Homo sapiens: one gene and its partners. The protein of the gene in region 2 purifies or fractionates together with the protein of the main gene of each other region. This does not show direct contact. Each region holds a gene or a part of one and is shown on either strand. Other genes may lie near its edges.

Region 1 (3,371 bases), on a different chromosome or scaffold from region 2:
TTTTCAAGTACTACCAATCTTTGTAGGTTTATTGTCTCTGGACAGCGCAGTAAGAGGGAACTAGAGAAATCTGCTTTCTGCAGATGGAATTCTGCCTCATATTACCAAGCCCTTAATATCAAGGTCCTCTAGTCCTCCGAAATCTATTTTCTCTCTGTCTTCTGAGGAAAGCCAATTTGAAACCATTTTTCAGGGAAGACAGCAAGGAGACTTATGCTGACGGCGATGGAGAGGCTCAGGCAGTCAGCCATGGAAAGACTCAGGCAGTCAGCCATGGAGAGACTCAGGCAGTCAGCGATGGAGAGACTCAGGCAGTCAGCGATGGAAGAGGCTCAGGCAGTGACTGGGGTGTGGCTGCTAAGGGACGGATCTAACATCACAAGCCACGGTCTAGGAGCTGACACCCACACCGTGTAAATGACAGAAACGACAACGTTTCATTCTTAAATCAAATCAAGCTGTATTGATAATGATGATTTAGCAGGAACCACTCTAAAAATCAGAAACAATTAGAATGCCTTCCCCATCAAATTATTTTATTAGGTTAATTAAACAGCTTAAAGATGATTCCTTTTGTGTGGTACCCTTCTAGAAAATATTTCAAGTTTTTAAGTGAACTTCCAATACATAAAACAAAATTACTTTAGCATACACAAATTTCAGATCAAAATACAACACTCTGTTTCTGTTTTCTTACAGTTATAAAATCCAGTCAATACAAACTACATAAAAAAGATAAAACACTTTCACTGATCCTTGGTACAAGAGAACAGCATGATGGCAAAATGTTCCCCAAGCACAGGTCCTGGGTTCGTGAGAAGGGACCAACCCCACAATATACTGAAGCATGTAAACAAAGTGCGTGCTACTTAATTTAGGTTAACAAATCCTTTTTGCATCAGTATTACTTGTAAACCATAAAGCAACTTTTAAAAAGAAAGGTTATTAATTAAAAATTACTTCTGACTGCTAAATTTCTTATCAGCAAGTGAACAGAAAATTATTCCACAAAACAAACTAGTACCTTTGGACCACAGGATGTGAGACGTGACATTTCAATGAAATCAACTTAGCACGACTTCTCTACTATCCTACTGAACTTGGGGAGTACAATTTTACAAGTTGCAGCCTTCTAGCACTTCCAATATTTTGAACTTTCTAAACCTGCCTATTTAGCTATGATTTTCATTGCAAATCCCTGTTTTTCAGTAGTAGGACTTTATTAAAGATAGGATAATATCACACACAATACAATCTTCACTGAATATGTGTCTAAGCAGACCTACTTGGAATTCTACTAGATAATAAAGTTGCAGGATTTAAAAGAAATACTATTCTGCAGGTCCCATGTCAGAAAACACAGATATGTTCAACAGATTGGTGTGGTATTTATATGGTATTCGTGGCATTTTCCTTATAGTATTCAAAGCATCAAAATGACAAATCAAGACTGTTAAAAACCAGTCTTGGACAAGGGTGACAGTCACATACTCGAGGGTCCAGCACAACACTGGCATGAGCCAACAGGAGCCACGCCGGCCACCTGCTGGGCCAGGGACCACTGCAAAGAGCAGCCCTGAATTTGGGAGGGTCAAATCGAATTTACAAATCTTGTTTTCAGGAATTTCCTTGATAGTTCTCTTTCATGGCAGAAGACCTATACCCGTGATGGAAAACAAAAGAATGTACACATTTCTAGTGTGTCATGAATGGGTCTCACTCACAGATAGGTACAGACATCACTGTCACTGCTAACACACAATGAAGTCTGCCTACGCCTACCTGAGGAGCATCCGCGATACCGTTTCTGATGAGGACAGGACTCTGCGGAGGTGGGCAGAGCAGGGGGTGCTTTTGTCAGCTCTGCTGGTCACTTCCAGGCTGCTGGTACACACCCCAACAGTGGCTGCAAAGATTGTTCAAAACTTCTGCTGAGGCCACAATGATTACGGGATGGTTGTCACAATTCACAAAAGGTATGATACAAAAAACAAAGGGTATCACCATTACGTCGCCGGCGAACTGAAGGGGTACAAGACCGAGGAACCAAACACAAGCTGAATTCAAAACGAAAAGAACCCCAGTGGCAGAAAAAGCCACGAATTATTTAATGAAGCAAGTTGTGCTAATAAACAGCCTGTGCTTTTCTTAACTGAAGGTCACTTGATACATTTCCCAACACACAATTTTTATTCAGATTATCTTTGTTTTCATGGAGAGCCTGAATTTTGAGGTACGATCTAGGAAAAAGATGTTATCACCCACACAAATGGAAGGCTCACTTCTTTACTTCTTAAGCTGATGATACCCTTTTGCCCGCCCCATGTACCAGATCCTACATGATTTTTTAAAATAAAACATAAGTCAATTTCAATGAGCATATGCTAGACTAACAATAAATTTATTTTTTGGAGTTTCTTTTGAAGCACAAATTCCTTTTAAAAAAAATATGAAAAGGTGGTCTCTCCTGGAAACAAGCAGTTCTAGTTTCCGATCCCACAACGATTTGGAACATAGTGTGTTTTTAAGTCAGAGCTGAAGAGGAAAGAAGGAAACAAGGGCTGCGCTCCGCTCTGGCGAATGCGAGCTGCAAAGGGACAGAGGAGGACCCACACGGAGGGTCCCCACCCGGCTCTGCGGACAGACATGGCAGAGGGCCTGTCACACAAGAGGCCACCGGGCCGAGCACGTCCGGGAGCCTGGGGCTGCACTGGGTGCTGAGGTAGTGAGCGGGGCCTGTGCCTGCCTGCCCTCCCGGCTTGGAGGGGGAGCCCTGAGGGCCTCTGGGGCTGGCCTGGAAGGTGTCATTCTAGCCTACAGGTGCCTAAGGCGCTGGGATGTGTCCTTGGCGGTGCCTCAGAAGGCACCTGGGTCCAAGTTCTGACCTGGAGCCTTGGGGACAGATCTGACTCTCACAGCCAGGGCCAGCTGGTTGTGGAAAGTGCTAGTATGCAGGTCTGCTCAGGGATCTGTGAGGCTCATGCTCTGGCCATTATGTGGTCTGAAGAACCAGAAGGGCTATTCTCCTCGCCCCCAACAACCCGCCCCAACTGCACCTTTCTTTTCCTTTTTATTTTGGATACATAATTCAAGCAGTAAAAAAACCAGGCTGGAAGAGGGTTGGGACAGAGGAGCAGAGGGCAGGGTGGGAAAGCTATCCCAAGAAGAGTGAGTAAAAACAACGACTCCGAACATGGCCAAAATACCCTTCCTCCACCTTGACGGCAATCCCTAAGCTGGCAGAGAAAGATGCGCCGACTGCGAAGTGCCTGTTTTCTCAGAGATTCCACCTAGCAGTGTCCATGGGGAGCCACAGTGGAACATGGAGAGAACAATCAAGGCTGGTTCAAACGAAAGGTTATTCACCAGTG
Region 2 (3,523 bases):
TTTTTTGGTAGAGATGGGGTTTCACCATGTTGCTCAGGCTGGTCTTGAACTCCTGAACTCAGATGATCTGCCCACCTTGGCCTCCCAAAGTGCTGGAATCACAGGTGAACACTGCAAGTATATTAAAATGAATAAGTCATAAATTACAATCTTAACTCATTCTTTTTTTTTTTTTTTTTCAAGACAGAGTCTTGCTCTGTCACCCTGGCTGGAGTACAATGGCACAGTCTCGGCTCGGTTTCTGCAACCTCCACTTCCCGGGTTCAAGTGATTCTCCTGCCTCAGCCTCCCGAGTAGCTGGGATTACAGGCATCTGCCACTGCACCCAGCTAATTTTTGTATTTTTAATAGAGATAGGGTTTCATCATCTTGGCCAGGTTGGTCCTGAACTTGTGACCTCGTGATCCACCCACCTCGGCCTCCCAAAGTGCTGCAATTACAGGCGTGAGCCACTGTGCCCGGCCCAACTCATTCTTAATGTATATAGGAATAAACATTAAGGAGAAAGGCAATGAGAAAAGTGGTAAAAACTATTTTTAATGCACAGGCCCATACTTCACAGAATGATGAAGGTCATTTAAGTAATAAGTGGAGGGGAAAAGTTATTAACTTATTCTTGAAGAAGCACTATGTATTTTATGTGTTTAAAATGTTTATTGGCCAAGCACAGTGGCACATGCTTGTAATCTCAGCACATTGGGAGGCTGAAGCGGGAGGATCACTTGAGCTCAGGAGTTGAAGATCAGCCTGGGCAACACGGCGACACCTCATCTCTATTGAAAATCAAAAAATTAGCGGGATGTGGTGGTGCATGCCTGTAGTCTCAGCTAATTGAGAGGCTGAGGGAGGAGGATGGCTTGAGCCCAGGAGATCAAGGCCACAGTAAGATACGATCACACCACTGCCCTCTAGCCTGGGCAACAGAATGAGACCCTGTCTCAAAAAAAAAAAAAAAAAAAGTTTATTATTGGTTGTCTGGTAGAATATAGCATCCATTAATTTTCACTGAATCTGAAATACTAGGAACTTAAAGGCACCAGTGAAAGTACTGGGATATGCCTAAACAATAAGAGATAGTCAAAGTTAAACACACAGAAATATTTTCTGCCATTCACCTATGCTCTCCTACTGTACCCCATCCATTTTTACTTTCCAAAGAATAAAGGCAATAAAATTATCCCTCCAAAATTTGATTGCTAGTATCAATGGGGATGTGTGAGAATGTGTTTTACACAGCTAAAAGCATCTGTAAGTATGTATTTGGAAAGGTATCCTAAAACATTTATTACTCCTTAATATTAAATGCTCAGTTTTTTTGTTTGTTTTGTTTTGTTTTTTGAGATGGAGTCTTGCTCTGTTGCCCAGGCTGGAATGCAATGGCACGAGCTCAGCTCACTGCAACCTCTGCCTCCTGGGTTCAACCGATTCTCCTGCCTCAGCCTCCCGAGTAGCTGGGATTATAGGCGTGCGCCACCATGCCCCACTAATTTTTGTAATTTTAATAGAGAAGGGGTTTTGCCATGTTGGCCAGGCTGGTCTCGAATGCCTGACCTTGAACGCCTGAGGCCCTCCTCGGCCTTCCATGGTGCTGGGATTACAGGTATGAGCCACCTCGCCCAGCTTCAGTTTTTAATAATCTATGTGGGCCGGGTGCGGTGGCCCCAGCACTTTGGGAGGCTGAGACGGGCGGATCACTTGAGGTCAGGAGTTTGAGACCAGCCTGGGCCAACATGGTGAAACCCCATTTCTACTAAAAATACAAAAATCAGCTGGGTGTGGTAGTATGTACCTGTAATCCCAGCTATTGGGGAGGCTGAGGCAGGAGACTCGCTTGAACTTGGGAGGCGGAGGTTGCAGTGAGCTGAGATGGTACCACTGCACTCCAGCCTGGGCAACACAGCAAGATTCTGTCTCAAAAGAAAAATTCTACCTGAAGAGCTCTTATTTCACAAAGCACAGTAAAAAAAAAAGGATAAAATATGAAAGAAGATGCAGGAAAGTTATACATTTTTATAAAGGGATATAGGAATTTGAAAGACATTCCAACATCAGCAAAGGAAGAATGAAGACTGGAAAACAAAATTCAGATACAAATATTAAAGGAGCCATGATTATCTAGAATAAAAGTAATGGTTAAATAAATAATCATCATATCCAAAATGTTGATCAATTTATAGCCAATGAACAAAAAGGAAATGGATCTAAATATTTTATCAAAATCAAGATTTAATGCAAGAAATAATGGTAGAAGGATGGTTAAAATACCTTCCCTTTCCTGAGCAATTCAGTCTTAAAGCCATTAGGCGGTGAACAAGGAAGATGTCAGAGCCAGGAGGCTGCGAAGAGGCAGCTCAGCCCAGGGTGTCAGAACCAAAGTGGTATGTAACAGGCATTCACTTGCGGGCAGCCAAGTGTGGAGTGCTAGGACCTAAATGGGGTGACGAGAGATTCATGCAAGAAAGGATGGCAGCATGGCAGAAATGGGAGATTAAGCACATATAGGGGATTGATCAAAGTAGTAAATATATTAAGGATAACAAATTATGTTTCACAGTGTTGAATATGGGAGGGAAAAATAGGGAAAAGGAGAAAACTAGAATGAATCCTGTGATGTACAATTGCAACTGGAGATGTCAGCAGGAACTCATCGTTTTTTAAAATATAGAGAGAAATGGATGTAAATTTAGATGTGTGTATACATGTGAATGTGTGTGTCTGTGTGTGTGTACATAAACATATATATTTTCTAGCTTTTTCCTCTGAGAGGGCCTGAGAACAGTGGCATCCCACTAGCTATGAGTTCTCCCTGCACCCAGATCTTGGCATTCATTCATGCATTTATATAGAGACAGGATCTTGCTATGTTGCCCAGGCTGGTCTCTCCTGGGCTCAGGCAATTCTCCCACCTGGGCCTCCCAAAGTGCTGGGATTACAGGTGTGCCACCATGCCCAGTTCAGATCTTAGCTTTTAAATAACATTCTCCACTGAAAAACAGCCAAGGATCCTTGTAAAATTGGCTGATTCCAGGGATGGGGCAAGAAAAATACAAGATAAGCCGAGAACAACTTGTTCCTGAAAGCAATAAAGAGGTCATGGGTTATGGGACATGTCAAAAGGCCACAGAAGCCAACCTGAGGGGGATGTCACTGACTAAATAAGGAACAACTGGAGTATCAAAATATATAATGATAGTAATGAATTATAACCCATTGAATAACAAAGAAAATATTGAGTCCATGTTACTACAAATAAATCAATTACATAAAGTTTGATAAGGACTGGGATATTTACAAAGTTTCAAAGAACTTCCCCACAAAGTACTTTTTATTTACAAAGGAGGAAAGAGTTATTTTACAATAGAAATGCCAGATACTCCCTTAATCAAGTGATCAAAGTGATCATCACCATAAAGGGATAAATAGAAATCACGTGTCACCTGACAGGATGCAATGAGAATGCAGCATTGCTTCACGACACTCCTGCATAACCTGAATCTAATCACAAAGAAACATCAAACAAATG
Region 3 (4,238 bases), on a different chromosome or scaffold from region 2:
AGGTAAGAAATAGAAAGGATATGGGATTCAAAATATTCAGCCTATGAACACTGCAATTAGAATATGGAGAACAGGGAATCCATTTGTAGGCTCATTTTTTTTTTATATTAACAACAACCTTCTCCTTCAGAAAGTTCACCACAACTGCTAAATCAAAATTAAATTTCAGGGATTTTCTGCAACTTTACTTTTCTCTATGATTATTCTACTCATAAACAATCATGGAGGTGAGCAATAACTACTTTATTCGATTTTGGATAAGTTAACAGGACCCCCTTCTTCCTGGGAAAGAGGCAAAATTGCACAAAATTGAGAGGCGAGCAACTGTAAGATGATGGTACCTTCTAATTCCAATAGCTTTTTACAATAGAGAACCCAGTTACTTGGATAAATGTTGGCTGTACTTTTGAAAACACTCAGGCAGAAGGACCAGGCTTGCAGTCATTTCCATGCATAGCAGGTGAAGGTAGGTGCAACATACAGCTCAACCTCATGATGCTACGGCCAGAAACTGAAATGTGTTTTTGCCCCTGTGTGGCATGTTCTGATGGCAAAGGTGTAGGCAACCAACTGGGCCCAACCTACCTTTCCCTACACCTGGTCACTTTTCAAAGTGCAAACCCACTTTAACAAACTCTAGCCTGTATTATAGGAGGAAGGATCTGGGTGGTGCAGACGTGGCTTTCCATTGCCAGATCAGAAGGGTGGAGGAGAGGCTGGCAGGATGACAAGAATGAATGAACACACCAAGTTTCAGCTCCTATCTGAAGCTGCTCAGTTCAGGTAAGCATTTAGAGAAGCCAGTTGCAATAACTAACAGGGCAAATGTTTCTCTGGAAAATTCCAAGCCAGAGAAAATTGAGAAAAAGAGGGAAGGATGGAAAGCAGTACAAAGAGAAGCCAGCTCAAAAGGTTAGAGGTCCAGATGAAAATCTGAGATTGGAGAATGATAAAAAACATTGTGTGAGATTCTATTTTAGGTCATTATGCTAGGGAAATTTACACAGGATAGGGTTGAAAGAAATTAGGCTATAAGATGAGTGGCAAGTTGCAATAAAATGGCACCCTAAACTCACCAAGTCACTGTTGTCACTGCTATCTTGCCTTAGTTGATTTGATGTCTAGTTAGTCTATTTGTGTGTTTCTCACAGAAGAGTATGTTTTGACCCAGGCTGACAGATACTGTTGATTCTGAAATTTGTTTTTATGGTTATGTTAAAACCATTGTCATTATAAGAAACAGAGATGGGAATATTGCCTCCTGAAATCTGATTCACATACAAACTGAATGAACTACATAACAACCACCTTAGTCAGATACTATTTTGAAACCTGGTTCAAAACCTAAATGCTTATAAGATTCTTGAGAGACAGTGCTGTGCTCTGAGTCATAGGGAAGCCATCCCAGAAGCCAGGTCTACTCATCAATAAGCAGCTGCCTGTGCAGAGTGCAGGCTGCACCTTTGGACAGCCTTTAAAACTGAATTCTCAGAATTTTAGAACAAATTTTTGTCTAGAAATGCTGACTTTGGTTCATTAGGTAGTGGTAAAACAGGCTCCCTTCGAAGCTCTCCTTCATCACCTTCCTAAGTGCATGGGGGAAAATACCTAGGGCTCAACAGTCTTGAGAAGTGTGGAAACATTTTCTTTGTGAGTGAGAACAGATCACCTAGAGAAAGGAGACCAGATTCCCATCACTGCTTCTGGGTATCAGATGCTAGCGTGAGTACACTGTTGATTTGCTTATCCAATTATTGATTTACATTATTGCTCTTATCTTCTGTTGTAGGCAAGAGGTAAGTTCACTAACGAATCTCAAGGAAGATGTAAATGGCCAATGATCATGCTCAGAGGCCTGAAATCTCTCCAGGTCGCCTCCTTGGAGGGATGCTTTTCTGGTGGGGCAGCTTTTATCACCATACACAAATGTGCTTGGGTTTGGATTCTGCTGGAGAGAACACTGTGACCCGTGGTCTCTTCCTTGGGCCATGTCAGTCAGTCTTGGACTTATTTTGCATCCTATTCTTTACCTCACTGATGCCTGTGTATCCTTGGCTTGGTGTCCCAGCCCATTGTCCATCAAAACCTGCTATCAGGAATAGATCAATTATCAGTTATACACAATGCGCCATGACCCTATCCCAGAGGCATTAGGTCATTTGGCTTCATGTTTTTTTTGTTGTTGCTGTTGAGTTTTAAAATAATGAAATATAATGTAGCTACATAAAGATGAATTCAATAGATGCATACAATTTAATAATAGAACATCACCAGAACCTCTAAAACCTCCCTCCCCATTCTTTCACCAACAAAACCTCCCCACCCACTAGGGGTAACTAAAGCAGTTATATCCGTGGCTTAGTCTATCCACCCATGTAAGCATCCATTAAAAAACAGTTTTGTCTGGTTTGATCTTTTCATGAAGGGCATCTTACTGTGTGTATTCTTTCGTGCCTGATTTATTTGCCTTCTAAACCTTACTTCTATCAGTGGCGTGGGAGCTGATGGCTACTGCTGTGGTGATTTCAGACAGTCTTGAGAAGATGAGGGTAGAGTTTTGTGGTCAGAAACCTTCTTGTGTGCCTTAAGATAGTGCGAATTGAAAGACCATGTCCTGGTATGAAGCATAGTTTTTGGGTATACTAGATAAACCAAGGTCTGTGAGAAGCTCTGGTAGACAAAGGGAAGAAGTGGGTCCCAATGGACGTCTAACAAGGACTGGGGGGTTTAAATCATTAAGACTATGATAATTTTATCCACAGTTGATCTATAAAGTGTACTATGATATACTTTTCACAATGTAAGCTTTCTCTGGAGTTAATAATTATCAAATTTGCTCATTTTTTGGATATTTATTTGGTTTCTAAGTTCCTATCACTAATGTATTTCTTTTCTGATGGGGGTAGATATCCCTCTCCATGTGTTCAATATATTCTAACGCATCTCTCTCTCTGATAGCATATTCACCTTAGAGAGCTTCAAACAGTCAGCATACTCAATTTTAGCATTAATCATACAACGAAAATAAAGGCAGTATGGGCAAACACTTGTGGGAAATAATGTGTAAGATAAAGTCAGAAACACTATGTGAGGTACAACCCTACTTCTCTTGAGAGGGACAGCTCACCTGCCTCCCTTAAATACAATGTTCCCCAAATACAGCATAAATACCATGTTAGTGATTATACACATACATAGCAACACACACATATATATATGTGTGTGTGTACTAATGAAAATGTAATTGGTGTGAATTTTTATTTTATGGATGAGAAAAGGCCCACTCTATTCTATAGCACTTTGCTTTCTTCACCTCTCTGGGACTGCAGTGCTACTCCTCTATGACAGTTGAATTTATAGATGTCAGAATATGAATTATTCCAGGTGGGGCTCGGTCATATTCATCAAATACCAAAATCAGAGCAGGGAGGAATCAAATAAACAATAACAAAAATCAGTAACTACATTTCCACATGTAAGAAGTGCCAGTTGTGCCTTAATGTAAGGATATCTAAATTTACTACATAAAAATACTATGTGATACTAAATATCAAATGAAATAACATTTCATGCTAAAATTTGATTCATTAAAAATATCTATTTGACTACTTTGAATTAGAGCTATAGCTAATATTCTACAGACTTCTTTTAAATTGCTCTATAAAGCATCTGAATATATTTATTTTAATGACATTATTTAAAACTATCATGGCCATCATAAAAAAAAAAGTAGGGAGTGTCTGAGTCAGAGGCTTTATATTTCAGAGTAATGCAAAGAACTCTTTCAGACTCACCCAACCAGCGGCCAACTTCCTCTATGAAGACAGTAAGGTAAATACTTCTGAAGTCCATAATTTAAAGTCTGGCCAGATCCTTTGAAAAAAGACACACACACACACACACACACACACACACACACACACACACACACAGACACAGAGAGAGAGAGAGAAATAAATCTTGGTTACTTTGTGTCTGAGACATTAAACTCATCACACAACATCCAGATCGGATAATGGTCCTCTTGTCTGCTTCTCCACCTTACAGCTTGTCTATGACTGATTTAAGTGGTGTCATGGGAGAATGGCATGGGAATCGGATGCCAGCTGAAAAATTTGTGTTCCATCTTTGAAGAGATAAGTAGGGATTATGTGCAAATCTAGATTCTATATTTCCTGTGTTCTTATTTAAGGCATTATAGGTTGGAATATACTAGATTTTGAGATTAGAATTGAACT
Region 4 (3,181 bases), on a different chromosome or scaffold from region 2:
TGGGTCCCATCCCACCCCCACCCCTGTCTCTGAGGGCAGGGCCACCTGAGGGCTGCAGGGCAGCGCATGGGTGGCCGGCGTTTATTCAGCAGGCTGGCGGGGGCTTCCAAGTTTTGCAGGGACCTCCAGTACTCCGGCAGCCTGCACCCTTCCTTTCCCTTCCCTTCCCTTCTGTCCACCCTAAGCCTCCTAGGGGACAGGCAGGCTGGACTTCAGAAAAGGTGGGCTCTGCCCTCCTCCGGTCCCCCGAATGTCTTGGGAAAGAGTCCACCAAACACACATGCACACACCCGCGCACACGCACATACCCAATGCATGCACACACGTACACACACACGCATACACGCATGTATACACGCGCACACACGCAGGCATTACACACACACACATTACACACACACACCCGCACGGACGCGCACACACAAACGCGCGCACGCACGCACGCACGCACGGGGGAGGTCAGCCCCAAGCAGGGCTGGGGAGGGGTGCAGGGCGCGGCGTGTCTGTGGGCACTTGGGGCGTCGAGACGCCGCCGGGAGGTTTTCGGGCAAGTCTGCGAGAAGACGGCGGGCCCTGAACTGGGCGGGTACCCGCGCTGTTGCGCGTGGGTCCCGGGAGCGGCCTCCGGCGCCCTCTGGCGGGCGGAAGCCGCGCAGCACCTCTTGGGGGCGGGACGCGCGGTGGCTACCGACTCCCGGCCCGCCCCGGCCCGCGTGCAGGACCCGGTCGTCCCCTCCTGCTGTCCTGGAGCCCGGACTGAGGCCCCGGGGGCGCGGCAGGGCTCCCGGTCCACGCGAGCCATGGCCCGACCGCGCCTCGGCTCAGCCCTGCCCTCCGCAGCCGCTTTCGGGTGGCTCCGCCCGCGGCCCAATTTCCAGGCGACCGTTTCCCGGCGACGGCGGGCGGGGCCGTCTCTGCCGCCCCCCGCCGCGCGCTCCGCGGGCGCCTGCGACGCCCCGCCTCTGGCTCGGGTGCGGGAGCGGGGCCTGCCCGGACTGCGACGCCGCCACAGCTTGGGGCCAGTTCGCCCAGTCAGGGGGATGGCTCGGTCGGCCTCGGGGGTCGACGATCCCCCGGGTAGGCGACGTGCCCTGTCCAGGCCTCACTTCCCGCGTCCGCAAAACGGGGTGGACAACGCAGCCTAAGGCAGAGCCGCGCCAAGGTCCCTCGCTGTCGCCGGGCTCTGGCGGCCTGACCGGGCCTGGGGTCCGAGCGTGCCCCCGGGCCTGGGGGGGTCGCCGCGATGGACTCGCTGGCAGCGCCCCAGGACCGCCTGGTGGAGCAGCTGCTGTCGCCGCGGACCCAGGCCCAGAGGCGGCTCAAGGTGCGTGTGTGGAGAGGGCGGAACGTGGGTCTGTGACCCCGCGGGCTCCGGGACTCGGCATGGGGTCCCCGTCCCCGCGCGCCACGGCCCGCCAGCGCCTAGGCTCAGCCCTTCCCTCCGCAGCGGCCTCGCAGGTCCGCGGCCCCACGGTGGGGCGACGTGCCCTGTCCAGGCCTCACCTCACGCGACTCCAAAACGCGGCGGAGAATGCGGCCGTGGGACCCCTCCAGGGGCCCCAAGGGTCTGCGGGGGCTGGGCGCCTGGGCGCGCGGGCGGGGGAGGCTCGGCGCCGCGGTCTATAAATAGGCGCTGCTCCGCCACCGCCGCTGCCGCCGCCCCCGCGGCTGGATCCGGGCCAGGTGGGGCCTCCCGCCCCCTGGCACTCTCCGGAGGGGTGAGTGTCGAGGCCCCCAGCTTCTCCGGCTTATGGAGGGCCTTGAGTGTGTCCCAGGGGTCCCAATCCTGCTGCCCTCTGCCCGAGGAGGGAGGACATCGCCTGTGCCTGCTGCGGCCTGACATCTCCCCACGGAATAAATACAGTGTCGGTCCCTGCAGAGCCCTCCCTGGGATTGGGGCCAGGGGTGCCTTCTCCTGCCACCACCTCGCCTGCCTTCTTATCTCCAGGCTTTTGCCCACGGGCCCTCCCCTTATTTTTGCCAACGAAATGCCCCACCCTGGGAACCGTACCCTCTGCTGTCTCCTCATACCGCATTTGGTAAGAGACAGGGTATTGGGCTTCTGGAGAAACCTTTGTGTCCCTACCCTGTTCCATCCTGTCCCCAGGACATTGACAAGCAGTACGTGGGCTTCGCCACACTGCCCAACCAGGTGCACCGCAAGTCGGTGAAGAAAGGCTTTGACTTCACACTCATGGTGGCTGGTGAGTGGGCCAGGCTCCTCGGGGGAGTGGCTGGGGTCACTGGCCAGCCAAGCTCTGTCGTTGGAGCCCCAGACCTAACGCAGCTCCTTCTCTGTACCTGTGTGCAGGTGAGTCAGGCCTGGGGAAGTCCACACTGGTCCACAGCCTCTTCCTGACAGACTTGTACAAGGACCGGAAGCTGCTCAGTGCTGAGGGTGAGTGGCCCCCAGGAGGCCCTGGCACTGATCCCCAGTCCCCTTCCATGGGACCTCTCCAAGGACTCCCTTTCAGGTCCAGCTCCCACTGTTCTGTTCTCGCGGTGTGGGTCCCCTGGGGGTAGGGCCAAGGCACCAAGATGGATGAGGACGAGGGTCCTGGCTGCCAAGGGTGAGGGGCTGAGGGTTGGAGAGGCCCTTCCAGTGGCCCCTTCCCCGTAGAGCGCATCAGCCAGACGGTAGAGATTCTAAAACACACGGTGGACATTGAGGAGAAGGGAGTCAAGCTGAAGCTCACCATCGTGGACACGCCGGGATTCGGGGACGCTGTCAACAACACCGAGTGGTGAGTGAGGCCTGCTGAGAAAGGCCTTGCCTAGGCGGCCACAGCACTCGAGGCCTGGCCTCACCTCCCTCCTGCCCACAGCTGGAAGCCCATCACCGACTATGTGGACCAGCAGTTTGAGCAGTACTTCCGTGATGAGAGCGGCCTCAACCGAAAGAACATCCAAGACAACCGAGTGCACTGCTGCCTATACTTCATCTCCCCCTTCGGGCATGGGTGTGTGGCTGTCCTGGGGCCAGGCTCGGGAGTGCAGCCCCTACAATATGGCCCCCTGGCTGTGCCTATGCCCACCCTTGGCTGCTCTCGGCAGGCTGCGGCCAGTGGATGTGGGTTTCATGAAGGCATTGCATGAGAAGGTCAACATCGTGCCTCTCATCGCCAAAGCTGACTGTCTTGTCCCCAGTGAGATCCGGAAGCTGAAGGAGCGGGTGAGCCTG

The links.
Region 1: the proteins of ZC3HC1 (region 2) and GAN purify together in Homo sapiens (co-immunoprecipitation; 2 studies listed by BioGRID and IntAct, with this or other methods). This does not show direct contact.
Region 3: the proteins of ZC3HC1 (region 2) and SERPINB7 purify together in Homo sapiens (affinity purification with mass spectrometry; one large-scale study listed by BioGRID and IntAct). This does not show direct contact.
Region 4: the proteins of ZC3HC1 (region 2) and SEPTIN5 purify together in Homo sapiens (affinity purification with mass spectrometry; one large-scale study listed by BioGRID and IntAct). This does not show direct contact.

What each region holds. Positions count from the first base shown.
Region 1 is NC_000016.10:81,387,954-81,391,324, reverse strand, and holds the end of GAN (gigaxonin), read right to left. Parts: 3' UTR 516-3,371; downstream 1-515. UniProt on the Homo sapiens protein: Probable cytoskeletal component that directly or indirectly plays an important role in neurofilament architecture.
Region 2 is NC_000007.14:130,041,363-130,044,885, forward strand, and holds part of ZC3HC1 (zinc finger C3HC-type protein 1), read right to left. Parts: exon of another isoform or gene 2,266-3,523; intron 1-2,265. UniProt on the Homo sapiens protein: Required for proper positioning of a substantial amount of TPR at the nuclear basket (NB) through interaction with TPR.
Region 3 is NC_000018.10:63,773,995-63,778,232, forward strand, and holds the start of SERPINB7 (serpin B7), read left to right. Parts: upstream 1-1,423; 5' UTR 1,424-1,722; intron 1,723-3,786; exon of another isoform or gene 3,787-3,831; intron 3,832-4,238. UniProt on the Homo sapiens protein: Might function as an inhibitor of Lys-specific proteases. Might influence the maturation of megakaryocytes via its action as a serpin.
Region 4 is NC_000022.11:19,717,495-19,720,675, forward strand, and holds part of SEPTIN5 (septin-5), read left to right. Parts: exon of another isoform or gene 1-1,243; coding exon of another isoform or gene 1,244-1,324; intron 1,325-2,107; coding exon 2,108-2,204; intron 2,205-2,311; coding exon 2,312-2,398; intron 2,399-2,620; coding exon 2,621-2,744; intron 2,745-2,825; coding exon 2,826-2,960; intron 2,961-3,054; coding exon 3,055-3,172; intron 3,173-3,181. UniProt on the Homo sapiens protein: Filament-forming cytoskeletal GTPase. May play a role in cytokinesis. May play a role in platelet secretion.